Regions from separate parts of the Homo sapiens genome. Here regions 1 and 3 are each linked to region 2. Evidence: fine-mapped expression QTL. A gene starts in region 2. Each other region holds a variant in brackets. All regions are shown on one strand. Distances are from middle to middle.

Region 1 (4,240 bases), 23 kb before region 2:
TGGCTCACAGGTAAGGGTTTTTAAAGGCAGGGAGGCAGAGGTTACAGGCAAAGTCATAAATCAATACATGGAAACTGTGCATTGGTTTGACCTAAAAGGGTGGGACATCTCGAAGCGGGGCCCGCAGGTCATAGGTGGATTCAAAGATCCTCTGATTTGTGATTGGTTAAGGAGGCAAAGCTTTGTCTAAAAACCTGGGGTCAGCAGAAAGGAATGTTGAGCTCTGGCCTGTGGGTGTGACTTCCTCCAGGCCCCTCAGGAAGAAATGTTGAACAAAGAATGGTGGTCTGAGTTCAGTCCTCGGCTCCCAACTGAAGTCTCTGTGCCAGTGGATGGCATTTTCCATTTGCTGGGGGCCTGGGTTTCTGAAAAACAACTCAGGAACATATATTAAGATGTTATCTTAAGTTTCAATAGGGAACCAAGTATTTTGTGACTCTAACTTCCTTGGCTATTTTTTTTGAAAAGCTATTATTTCCTTCTTGCTTATCATGTTGTTCATTTACTCTCAGGGCTAGCTAGGTGCCTGGAACTTCCCTTGAAAGAACTCAAGATGTTCCTTTATTTCTATGCCTGGCGAGGGAGTTATGCCTGGCAGGCCCTTAAACTCTGTCTCAACTCTGGCTATCAGGATGCTGGTCCTGCCTTCCAGGCACTGCTGCAGGGAGGGGTGGGTGGCTCTGCCCCTGTGCCCAGCACACAGTAGGTGAGTACTCAGCACAGGGGAGCTGCATCCGCTCTTCTGTGGCATTGTCATTTATCTTCAAGGAGCATTTCCTCATTCAGTCCTCACAACAGCCTTGTGGGTACCTGGCAGGAACCGTCATCCCCACGTTACAGGTAGGCAAACAGGGGCTCAGGGACATCCTGATTTGGCCTTGGCCTCATTGGCTGAGGAGGAAACCCAGGCTCCCTGACTCCCCGCACAGTTTCACTCCCCGCCCCCCGCCACACTGCCTCCCAGCGGCTGCTGAAATGCAATTAGCCAGGGAGGGACCTGCTTTTCAGCTTTATACTGTCTGTTATTCCACACACAGATATACGAATGGCACAGGGCCATCTCAGCCTGTTTTTGTTTGCCAACAAACATGAGAAAGATTAGGATATCTAGCCAACATTTTGTGAGTCCTCACAACACTGCAGGCAGGTCTCTGTGCACATACACGCTCATCTACTTCTCAGAAACAGAGGGGTGAGGGCTGGTATCACCCCTGCTGCACAGATGAGGGTAATGAGTAGCAGGGAGCAGAGCCAGGGTTTAAACAGATCCCACATTTTTGGATTTTTTTTTTTGACGAGGTCTTACTCTGTCACCCAGGCTGGAGTGCAGTGGTACAATCACAGTTCACTGCACCCTCCACCTCCCAGGTTCAAATGATTCTCCCATCTCAGCCTCCCAAGTAGTTGGGATTACAGGTGCGCCCACCACCACACCCAGCTAAATTTTGTATTTTTACATGTTGCCTGGCCATGTTGCCCAGGCCGATCTTGAACTCTTGAACTCAAGTGATCCGCCCACCTTGGCCTCCCAAAGTGCTGGAATTACAGGTGTGAGCCATGGTGCCCGGCCAGATCCCGTGTCCTTAACTCCTCCTATCAATCAATTACATTAGTTATATGATACTGATAACTTGTCATTATCAGTATAATTCAAGCCTCTGCTGAAATGGTGGCATCTACTTGGTATGATTTCAGAGACAACAGGAAGGTCCTTTATGCATAAGAAACTAGACGCTTTCCCACCCAGCTTCGAGTCACTCACAATTGCACAATTCGAGCTCC[G/A]TCCTTTTGCCACGGCTTTGAGCTCTGTTGAAACAAGATCCTCCCAGGTGTTTCTCAGTCTTCTAATGCTCAGGCCTGCTTTTCATGACATAAACAGCTCTGTCCCTTTCTGTAGTTCTAATTACAAAAACAAAAGGTTCTTCCCACACGTAAAATTACATAGTACTCTTAAATATGTCTTCTTGAACGCCATCGCCCCATCCCAGACTCAGGACCAGCCTCCCCGCGCTCACTGCTGTCACTGCTTTCCGCACTCCCTGCGGATTTTAGGATTTTAGCTCCCATCTCGCGTCCTCTCTCCAGCTCCTCCTGCCCCCTGCCTGGTGGTTTCACCATCCACTTACCAGCCCGCCGATGGTGCCCTGGCCTCCCAGTTCTTTGACCTCCTCTCCCCAGTGATCTTCCAGGGCTCGGCACTCAGTTTCCTGGTCAAGCTTGAGCCCTCCAGAGAAGCCACTGTCAAACCTCTTTCCGGCTCGTGCCTTGGAGCCATCGCCCCTCAGGGCCCCACAGACTACTGACCTCACCCGCTTTCAAATCCCTACTCCCTCCTTTCCCAGCCTAAATTCCAGGGTTAGTTATTCTAGTCCCTACCTTTTCTATACCCTTCCCTCCACACTCCAAGTTGGACTGTACTTGCTTGGCAAAACCCCAACCCAGTTAGATCCAGTTCTCCGCCAACTCTGCCTGCTCTACTGTGTGTCTTACTTGCTTATTTTATTACCTCTGACTCCCTCCACCAGCATGTTGACCCCACGGGGACAGGGGCTATGTCCCTGCTGCTCTGCCCTAGCAGCCAAAGAATATCTGGTACATAGTAAGTGCATATTCATTAAAGTGTATAGTCGATGAATGAATTTTTCTAGGTGTGGAGAAAGATCTGAGAGCAGGTTTACCATAGTATCTGGGGAAAAAGCAGAGGGGGGACGTTGTGTTGTGTCCAAGGGGGCTAGAGGAGGGTCAAGGAGGAAGGCATAAGGAGGCCAAGCCCAGGGGCTCCTCCAGTTTGCCCAGAGAATGCCACCATTCTTTCCTAATTAGCTCCTTTTGGTCTGGGAGAAGCTCTTAGAAGAGTATTTCATTCTCGAGCCCTAATCACAGGATTCTGAACCCTTACTAAACTGTTGCTTCCTGCAGTCTTGGTTACTCAGGGCTCCCGAGCCAACGTTTGGATGGCTGTGATTATCTGGGATGTCTCAGGAATGACCTAACCACTTACCTCTTCCAAGTTCTGAATTTTACAACAGGAAATTGAGGCCCAGAGAACAGAAGGACACATGGGTGCTGCTGGTAGAGCCCGAACTGGAACCCAGATCTGCCTCCAGTCCCGGGCTCATCTGCCACCGTGTACCATGCCCTCTCTCTGTTGTCACATGCAGTCACTTGCCCGATTGTCCACACCCTTAAAAGAAGCAGAGAAAATGTTTGGTGTAATCCACACCGAACACTCAGATGAACAATGCTGTGGGAGGAAGGGAGGTGATTTAAAAAAATAATAATAAAATAAAAGAAAAATGCAGTGGAGAACAGATATAAGGATTCGACAAGGCTCTGGTGAACCTGCAAAACTTGCTTCCTGAGCGACAGGACAGTTCTCAGGGCCCTGCATGTAGCACCTCATCTACTCCTCCAACAGCCCTCTGAGGGAGGCTCTGTTATTATTACTTCTATTTTATTGAGACACAAGGAAATTGCGTAACCACACACATTATTAGGAAGTGACACAGCCTAAATTCAAACACTGCTTCACTCGGGCTCGTGCTTATAACCTTACCTAGGTGTCTTAAATGCCACACCAAAATAACTTCTCATTTTTTTTTTTTTTTGAGACGGAGTCTTGCTCTGTCGCCCAGGCTGGAGTGCAGTGGCACGATCTCGGCTCACTGCAAGTGCCTCCTGGATTCAAGCAATTCTCCTATCTCAGCCTCCTGAGTAGCTGGGATTACAGGCACATGCCACCATGCCCAGCTAATTTTTGTACTTTTAGCAGAGACAAGGTTTCACCATGTTGGCCAGGCTGGTCTTGAACTCTTGATCTCAGGTGATCCGCCCACGTCAGCCTCCCAAAGTGCTGAGATTACAGGTGTGAGCCACTGAACCTGGCCAACTTTTCAATTTAAGCAAACGTCCCCCCACCAAAAGATTGAGTCCTATTGAGAAGAACTTCATCTTCTGAAAAAGGGGGGGTGTGGGCAAGGTCGGCACTGCTTGTTGCACTGGATGCTGGCTGCATATCTGCCCTAGAGAGGCCCAATGGGGAAGGTGCAGAGGCCAGGGGAGAGGTAACTTGCTCTTACAGAGTCCCACTTCATGCCAGGTGTTTCTGTCCATTAGTGCTGCTTAGTTTTTGCTAGGGGCCTAGTCATGGGATCCCACAGCTAGGAGGTGGTATAACCTGCATACTTTCTCCTCCTAGAGACTTCCCAAGGCTTGTGTTACACAGGACATGAGTAAACAT
Region 2 (4,196 bases):
TCTGGTGCCATCCCTGCCCCCCCCATGGATAGTGCCCATGTCTTGCTGTCATCTCAGATGCATCTTAAAGTAAAATCATCCTCCACCCAGCTTCCCCAGGTCTGTTCCAGTTTCCCCAACTCTGCAGGAGGCAGCCCCACTCCTCCCTACCCCCAGGCTAAAAGTGAGGCCTCAGCCTTGACTCACCCTGCCCATCCAACCAGTCCCTGGCCCTGAGAGTCTTCTGCAGCAATAACTTCATTAACTTGTCTTCCTGCAGCTGCCACCCTGGCCTGGCCACCATCATCCTAGGAGAATGGGCCACCATCCTCCTTCCTCATTCTCCAGCCCCAGTCTCATCTTCCTTCCAAGGCTCTGCATCTTGAGACCTCTCCAAGCTCCTCCTCATGTCGCATGTGGATCAAGCCTTCCCCTTTGGACCCTGCCTTTCTATTCCACCTTATCTCTGGGGTCTATCTGTTCCAGAAGCCTTGACTCTTACTACCCTCTGATAACCACAGACGTGCCGTGTGCCAGGCGTCCTACAGCCATTACCTTTAGCCTTTACAGCTACTGTGCAGCATAGGAATGACAGTATTGTCCCTTTCACAGATGAGGAAAACTGAGGCCCAGAGAGATCATGCACAGGTCACACTGCCTGTAAATAGCAGAGTTGGGATCCAATGTCATGACTCAGAAGGGTTCTCATCCAAAGCCCTTCATCCTGTGAAACAGGTCCCATTACACCCCTTCCCTTCTCTGCAAGGGGCTCTTGCTGCTCCTCGACCAGTGCCTGCCTGCTCCTCCCAGCTGCCTCCAGTCCCGCAGCCCACACCTCCGCCGCACAGCTCCTCAGATGTTCCAGCCCACACTGCTCAGCCCCGCCTCCTAACTTTTCTGGCAGGAATCTCAGCCCTGCACAGTTTAGTACTTAATTATAGATTGCCTTGTACAGTTTTCTGCTTATTTCACATTTGCCTGTCTTGTTCCCAAGAAGCCTGCAAATATCTGATTTGGGGATGGAGCTTCTGTGTGCTCCTGTCCCCCAGGGCCCCGACACAGCACAGGGCTTGGCACACAAGCCCTCAGTGGAGCTGACCTCACCTCCCAGGAAGGGGGCAGGGTCTCTGCTGTCCAAAAGCTGACTGGACTCCACCCTGACACACCCGCCCCCACCCCAGCAGTATGCCTCAGATATCTGCACACACATGCACACATGCATACACACGCATGTACGCACACACACTTTATCTAATCTAAAGCTCTCTTTTCAACCTGAGGCAATGATATGCCTGGAATTACCTACCCAAGACAGAAAACTCCCTCCTAACTGAAGCCTGGCCTTGCCCTCACTGTGGAATTCCCATGCAGATAAGTGAGTCCACCAGAATGGTGCAAGCTCCCCAGAAGCGGGGAAGCCACTGATGTCACATCCTGGATTGGCACTTGGTGGAGGCCTTGGTGTCTTGATTCTGATTCTGGTCCTGTTGCTGTGTGGTCTTTGAGGGGAGCGGGAGACGCCATCTTGCCTTCTTTGTTATATCTCCATGAGGGGACATTTTGTGGGTGTGAGAACCACTCCTCCCCATCAGGACCACATGATACAGCCCCTCAGGGGGCAGAACCGCAGCCCCTGGAGCTAACCCTGGTCCTCTCACACCACCTCCCTTACCAAAACGTCTCTCTGCCCTGACCCCGACGTCCCCACAGGTGACCTCCCCAGCTGCTCCTCCTTGGGGTTAAACATTGCTATCTCAAACTTCTCATTTCTGAGCGGGAAGAAGAACACGCAACACGAAGCCTCACACACTTAGAATGATCTAGATTTCAGGTTGATTTCTTCCTGCACACTTAGAAGATAGCATGAGGGCTTGGGGCTTGTCGAGAGGGCACTGACCAAGGTCACAGGGTCAGTGAAGGGCCCAGGAGAAGAAACAGAGAGAGGTGCAGAGGCGGTGGTGGGTGGGGCCGCCAAAGTCACACTTCTCTTAAAATTTTACCCAGGGCCAATGCTAACATGTAAATAAACAAGTGAATAAACAAAGGGGTGTTTATGTAAGAAAAACAAATAAAAATGCTTGTGTAACACATCACACATACCACATAGCCTGAAGGAGCCCAGGAGGGGCATCTCTTTTGGGGGACCCGTCCAAAAGAGATGGGGTAGGCACCGTCCTCCTGGAGGGAGGCGGGCTTGGAAGCCCTTCACGGCCGCAGCAGCATGTTGGGGAGGGAGGTGTACACCGATAACCATCACGGAGGTTTTGCAACTGAATGTTGCAGCTGAGGGCTGGGCAGAGCCCGCCTCCTTGGGCATGGCCCTGTGCTGGGGAGCAGTGAATGCGCCCTGGTATACCATGGATGGGCAGAGGGCTGAGGATCCCGTGCCCGAGATGAATCTAGCCAAGAAATGAAGCCAGTGGGGGGCTCACAGGACCAAGACCCTGCTCACACACCGGGGGAGCCTTCTGCATCTCATTCTGGGGCCCCTTTCCAACCTTTGGAGTTGCCTCCTGGCGGAGCTTAACAGGCTGAGGCAGCTTCCTGAGCAGCCTGTGGTTGCTCCAGCCGGGTAGAGACAGCCACATTCCAAGCTCCGGGGTGGCAGGGAAGCTGGGTAGGGAGTTCCTACAGGGAGCGGCAGCCCAGGCTCGGGCAGGCAAGTGCTGAAGGGTGGCTCCGCCTTCCGCAGAAAGTCAGAGGCCGAGGAGATGGAAGAACAGGTGTTCAAGGGGGACCCGGACACCCCTCACTCCATCTCCTTCTCGGGCAGTGGATTCCTCTCCTTCTACCAGGCGGGGGCTGTGGACGCCCTGCGGGACCTGGCCCCCCGGATGCTGGAAACAGCCCACCGCTTTGCGGGGACATCGGCAGGTGCTGTGATCGCCGCCCTGGCCATCTGCGGGATTGAAATGGGTGAGGCCTGTGTTCTGGGTCCCCTGGGAAGTCTCTTGGGGGATTCCACAGAGACAGAAGGAGCGTGAGGGAGGCTGGGGATGCTTTGGGGGACAAAGCCAGGCCTGGGTGGCAGGAAGGGAAGGGAAGAGCTGGTTGGAGTAGGATAGCGGCAGCTGTGACGTTTGAAGGTTGGGGTCTGCCAGGCCCCAGACTCTAACATGCAGGGTGAGCCTGGACCCCTGTCCCTCTCCCTCAGTGCCCTTACCTGTGAGATGCTCTGTCTCCCAGTGCCTGGGAGAGTAAAGGACAGTATCTCCCTCGAACATCGAACATGGTGCTGTCAGAAGCTACACCACGGCACAGTCATACATTGGGGTTCAGTGTTGCTCCTGCCTGGCCTCTTTCAAAATGCAAATACCCTTGGGAGAGGCAACTCTTCAAATCTCTATCACCCTGATGGGGACGTATTGTCCACCATTTCCAGGTGGCTGGAAAGATGAACGCCCTGAGGCTGGAGGGGTAGACAGGAGGGAGCCCAGAGTGGGAGAAGAATAGGAAGGGGTGGGGAGAGAATACAGAAGCTCTCACTTCACCTTCTGTCCTGCTGGTCCAGGAGCCTCAGCGAGAAGAACTGCTACACTGCTAACCCAGAGAGAGAAACACTGTCCCGGACAGCAGATGCATCTAGCAGCCCCAAGGAACAAGCCCAACAGCCTAGTGAGCTACCTTGGAGGGGCATTTATTCATTTACAGAGCTCCTATTCTAGACAGAGCTCTGTTCCAGGCACTGAGGACAAGGTCCCCGCCCTTGTGGAGCAGAAATTCTAGAGAAAAGAAACAGATAATAAACATTCAAACAAGGCACCTTCTAGTGTGAGGTCGGGAAGTGATATGATCTATGAATAAAATTAAAGCAGGAAAGGGACTGAGAATGAAATGGAGACTATTTCAGGAAGGTGGTCAGGGAAGCCTTTCTGAGGAGGTGACATTCAAGCCTAGAGCTGGGTATAGTGATAGAACAAGCTACTGGGAGCTCCTGAAAAGGAGAATTCCTGGTGGAGGAGCAGCCACGAAGCCTGCGGTGTGGAAAAGGTGGTGGGAGGTCAACAGGGGCCAGGTCATGTGGCCTTAGCCACAAGCTCTCATCTCACCTAAGGGAGGGGGAGCACAGACGGCTGTGACAGCAAGTGGGGAGGGGGCAGAGGGCGTGAGCTCCTCAGGTGGGATCCCAGCTCTGCCATTTCATGATGCATGCCTGAAGTAAGTTATTGAACGTTCTGCGCCTCTGTTTCTCCGTCCACAAATGGGAGCTCCTAATA
Region 3 (4,000 bases), 24 kb after region 2:
CCCAGAGGCCCAGGTGTGACTTGCAGAGGGCCTGGGTCTCCTTCAGGGCCTTCCAGGCTGGGCTGCCATGCATCCCCCCAGAATTACTCCCACTTTGTGGGAACGGTCAGGGGAGAGGGGCCCCCATGTCCCCTTTCTGCCCCCTCTCTTCCAGTGGCCCTTGATAAGGGATTGAATGGTTACCAAATCAGTTAACACTTAGAAAAGTGCACGCTAATCCTGAGTGCGCTGCCCTAAGCTCATTAATATTAATTTTAGTTATGAATAATGATTGCTGGAAAGGGCCGCAGGTAGGTCCCAGTGTCTTTCGGGACAAAGGGGTTAAGCTGTGTGGCCTCCTTCCCACATCTCCACTCTCCTTCCTTCCCCCACATACAGGGGCTTCGCCACTCCATCCTCATCCCATACTGGCCTGGCAGTAATCCTGGGGATGAGGGATGAATAGGCAGTGGGCACAGACACCACCTCCGTCCCTCAGGCCCCCTGGGTTTATCAGCAGCCAGCTCTTCCAGATCTGCCTCCTCACGCCCACCCCCGTTCTGACTTCACTGCCCACTGCTGCAGTTTTCTCTTCCCGGCCCTCTCCCCCACCTTCCACTCCTACCATGCCAACCCTAGCAAACCACACACAAGCCAGGCCTCTGGGTCTTTGCACCTGCCGCTCCCTCTGCCTGGGATCCCCTCCCTCCTTCCCACACTGCTTTGCCTGCTGCTGAAACCCAGTCCCTCCTGCCAGGGCACTTCCCTTCATCCCCTCCCACCCTGCCTGCACCCCTCTTGTGGAGCCACGGTGCCCATGCTCACCTCCACCATGCCCCTGTCACCCCACTGCACCGTCACCCACTTGCTCACTCCCTCTCATAGGGCACTCCCAAAGGTGGGCCTCTCAGCCTCCTTTGCTTCCAGGGCCTGGCCCAGGGCTGACACACATTAATGGTTGTTGAATCCCACTGGATTCATGAAAGTTCAGCATCAGAAGGAACCCCGAAGCTATGGAGGACCCCCTCCTGCTTTAAAGCTGGGACATCAGGGCCAGATGGACCAAGCAGGTTACCAAGGACCCAATTAGTGAAGGCCAGGCCAGGAACTGAACTCGGAGCTTTGCTTCCCAGTGTGGCACCTTCACCTAGAATTTAAGGAGGTCTGGGCTGGTGGTGGGTGGCCCAGGGGCTGACAGGTGAGCTGTCCCCACCCCACCCCCGGGCCTCCAGCATCTCAGCCCTGTTCTCTCCGCACAGGCCCTATACTGCAGCTGCTTCGTCCCGGTGTACTGTGGCCTCATCCCCCCGACTTACCGCGGTGTGGTGAGTGCTTCGGCATGGTGAGGGGTGAGATGGGATCCAAGGGACCTCGGGTCCCTGTGACTCACACCTGGGGGAGCAGGGGGGTGGTCTCAGAATGCAGCGGGAGGACCTAGAGTTGGAGAGTTTCTCATGTTGTTACTCAGAATTCCCAATGTAGGTGGCTTTCTGGGCCTTTAAGATGAACTTCTCCAGCTGGGGTGGGTTCCTCTCTGGACCCACCTACCCACTGCCAAGCCGGGCAAATCAAGGCTCCATAGGCTTGGCAGGTTTTCCCAGACTTGACAGAGCAGAGGAGATGAAGCACTGGGACCTGGAAACTCAAATGATGAGGATGTTTTCTGAGGCCTGTAGGCCAGGGCCTTACAGACTTTAATGTGCCCTTGAATCACTCGGGGTCTCGTAAAATTATGCAAGTTCTGATCCAGGCGGTCTGAGGCAGTGCCTGAGGGTCTGCGCCCCTAACCAGCCTCAGGTGCTGCCCGTGCTGCTG[G/A]TGGGTGGGCCACACTCTGAGTGGTGATGGTCTAGCTCATGCCCCCTCCTCATTTTATATGCAGAGAAAGTCAGGGCCAGAGACTAGGATTCAGGTAGTAGATGGAGCTTGTATTGCATGTCAGCCAGCCCTGAGAGTTAGAGCCTCAGTATTTGTTGTCCTTCGTTCATAGGTGAGAAAACAGAAGCCCCAGAAAGGAAGGGGCTTGTGGGTGAACAGGTGGTGGGGCTGTAGCAGAGGAGCACGTCTCCTGCTTTACCCAGAGTATGGGTCCCCTGCACACAGAGCCCTGGGAGCCCCAGTCTCAGCGCCACTAAGATAGTGGAGGGAGGATCAGTGCAGGACAGAGCACCGGGCTGGGAGTCCAGAGGCCAATGCAGACTCACTAAGTGACCAGGGGCACACCACGCACCCACCAGGACCTCCGTCTCCAGGCTTATCCTGAGGGGTCTTCTGGATCTTCCTTGATGGGCCCTTGAAGCTGGTGCCATATCCCATGGGCCATTTCGATGTACCCCGAGTGGGGCTGAGAACTCTGGCCCCAAGTGGGCATTTCTCACTCTGCCCCCACAGAGGTACATCGATGGGGGCTTCACGGGCATGCAGCCCTGTGCCTTCTGGACCGACGCCATCACCATCTCCACCTTCAGTGGGCAGCAGGACATCTGTCCCCGGGACTGCCCGGCCATCTTCCACGACTTCCGCATGTTCAACTGCTCCTTCCAGTTCTCCCTGGAGAACATCGCCAGGATGACCCACGCATTGTTCCCCCCGGACCTGGTGGTGAGAGGCAGGAGGGGTCTGGGGAGTAGCAGAAGGTACCAGGGACTAGGGGTGGGGTTAGAGAGCCACTGGGGCCCACTCAAGTTCCATCTGAGTCTCCTCCCCTCAAATGGTCCTTTAAACTTCCTCCTAGACCTGCATCCTGGCCTTGCTGCTAACTAGCTATGTGACCTTGAACAAGCGCCTCAAGCTCTCCCAGCTTCAACATTCTCCCCGGTAAAGCGAGATGATGCCAGAAGTGCTGATAGAAATATTAACTGAACCCATCCATTCAGACAGTTCATGTCCCAAATCAAAGGTCGGCAAGCTGCAGCCCACGGGCCAAATCTAGCCTATGGCTTGTTTTTGTACAGCCTGTGAGCTAAGAAAGGGTTTTCCATTTTTAGAGAGTTATGGGGGAAAGAAAAAAAGAAGAAAAAGAAAAAGAACATTAGGCAGAGACTGCATGTGGCCAGCAAAGCCCAAAATAAGTATTTACTATCTGGCCCTTTACAGAAAAGGCTTTGTGGGCAGTAGCTCATGTAATCCTCTAGCATCCTCTATGATCAATATTATAACTGTCCCCATTTTATAGATGAAGAAATTGAGGCTGTGAGAGGGGACAGCAACACAGCCAATAAGGGGCAGCCCAGAGACCTGAACTCAGGCTCCAAACTTTGCTCTTCATATGGCCCCAGTGCACCTGGTTCTGCCATGAGCACCCCACACTTTCCTCCCAGGGGAGGCCGAGGCTCCACCATGAATGGTGTAACTCATGAACGGAGCATCACTGGGGCGTGTGATCAGGAATTGCTCCTCGGTTCTTCTTAGCAGACAGTGAGGGATGGGACACTGGATGGGTACGTTTTGAAAAGCCCATCAAATAAAATTCAAGAGCAATGGGAGTAGCTGCCCTGGGTCGGGGGAACTGTGGCTCCCTTCCTCCCCGCAGCCTTGGTAATTCTCCTGGTGCCTCCGCCCACAGATCCTGCACGATTACTACTACCGAGGGTACGAGGATGCAGTTTTGTACTTGAGGCGGCTGAGTAAGTACCGGTGGGGCCCCAGGTAAGGGCAGTGTTGGAGGGTAGGGAAAGTTCAAACAGTAGAAGGGCTGAATGGAGGGGTATTCCCCCCAGATTTGTGACCCGGAGACGCCCTTCACCTGGGAGAGCTGGAAATGGGGGTGGGGACCTAACAGGCTGCATCGCCCAGCCCAGACCGCTGGGTCCAGAAAGTAGGATCTCCATGTAAAGGGGGCTTTGGGGTTAACTAAGGGCACAGTGTCTAGGACAGTTGTGCATGTATGCTTATGAATGTAAAAACTCTATTTAGGAAATCCAGAGTTCAGATCTTCCTGGAGAATTCCATTTTCATGTAATTTCATTCTCTTCCACTTTATTCTCTTTCTAGTAAAATCACATTATTAATGTAGAATTGGATG

Which allele goes with the higher level. Alleles are on the strand shown, and positions count from the first base shown. SD is a standard deviation of normalised expression in the study named. Not every link is listed here.
For the expression in monocytes after LPS of the gene that starts at base 2,291 in region 2, allele G in region 3 goes with a lower level than allele A (large effect, 1.0 SD a copy in Kim-Hellmuth 2017).

Evidence for each region. PIP is the estimated chance that this variant, and not a neighbour inherited with it, causes the effect. A credible set is the group of variants that fine-mapping cannot tell apart.
Region 1: its variant is the best candidate, but not a certain one, in a credible set for the expression of PNPLA1 in whole blood (INTERVAL, PIP 0.85).
Region 3: its variant is the best candidate, but not a certain one, in a credible set for the expression of PNPLA1 in monocytes after LPS (Kim-Hellmuth 2017, PIP 0.77).

Annotation. Positions count from the first base shown.
Region 1 is chr6:36,244,932-36,249,171 of GRCh38, forward strand. LOC105375036 (a long non-coding RNA gene) reads right to left here and starts at 3,078. Exons shown (of 5, transcript XR_007059564.1): 1 at 3,002-3,078; 2 at 1,763-1,899; 3 at 195-365. It also overlaps a transcript of PNPLA1 not described here. RefSeq lists a silencer at 849-898. The variant G/A (reference allele first, on the strand shown) is at 1,783.
Region 2 is chr6:36,267,770-36,271,965 of GRCh38, forward strand. PNPLA1 (patatin like domain 1, omega-hydroxyceramide transacylase) reads left to right here and starts at 2,291. Exons shown (of 9, transcript NM_001374623.1): 1 at 2,291-2,895. The coding sequence starts at 2,691. RefSeq lists an enhancer at 399-985.
Region 3 is chr6:36,291,823-36,295,822 of GRCh38, forward strand. It overlaps PNPLA1 (patatin like domain 1, omega-hydroxyceramide transacylase), which reads left to right. Exons shown (of 9, transcript NM_001374623.1): 3 at 1,239-1,304; 4 at 2,368-2,577; 5 at 3,542-3,602. Among named protein-coding and RNA genes, the nearest start is that of PNPLA1, 24 kb to the left of the region's middle. The variant G/A (reference allele first, on the strand shown) is at 1,795.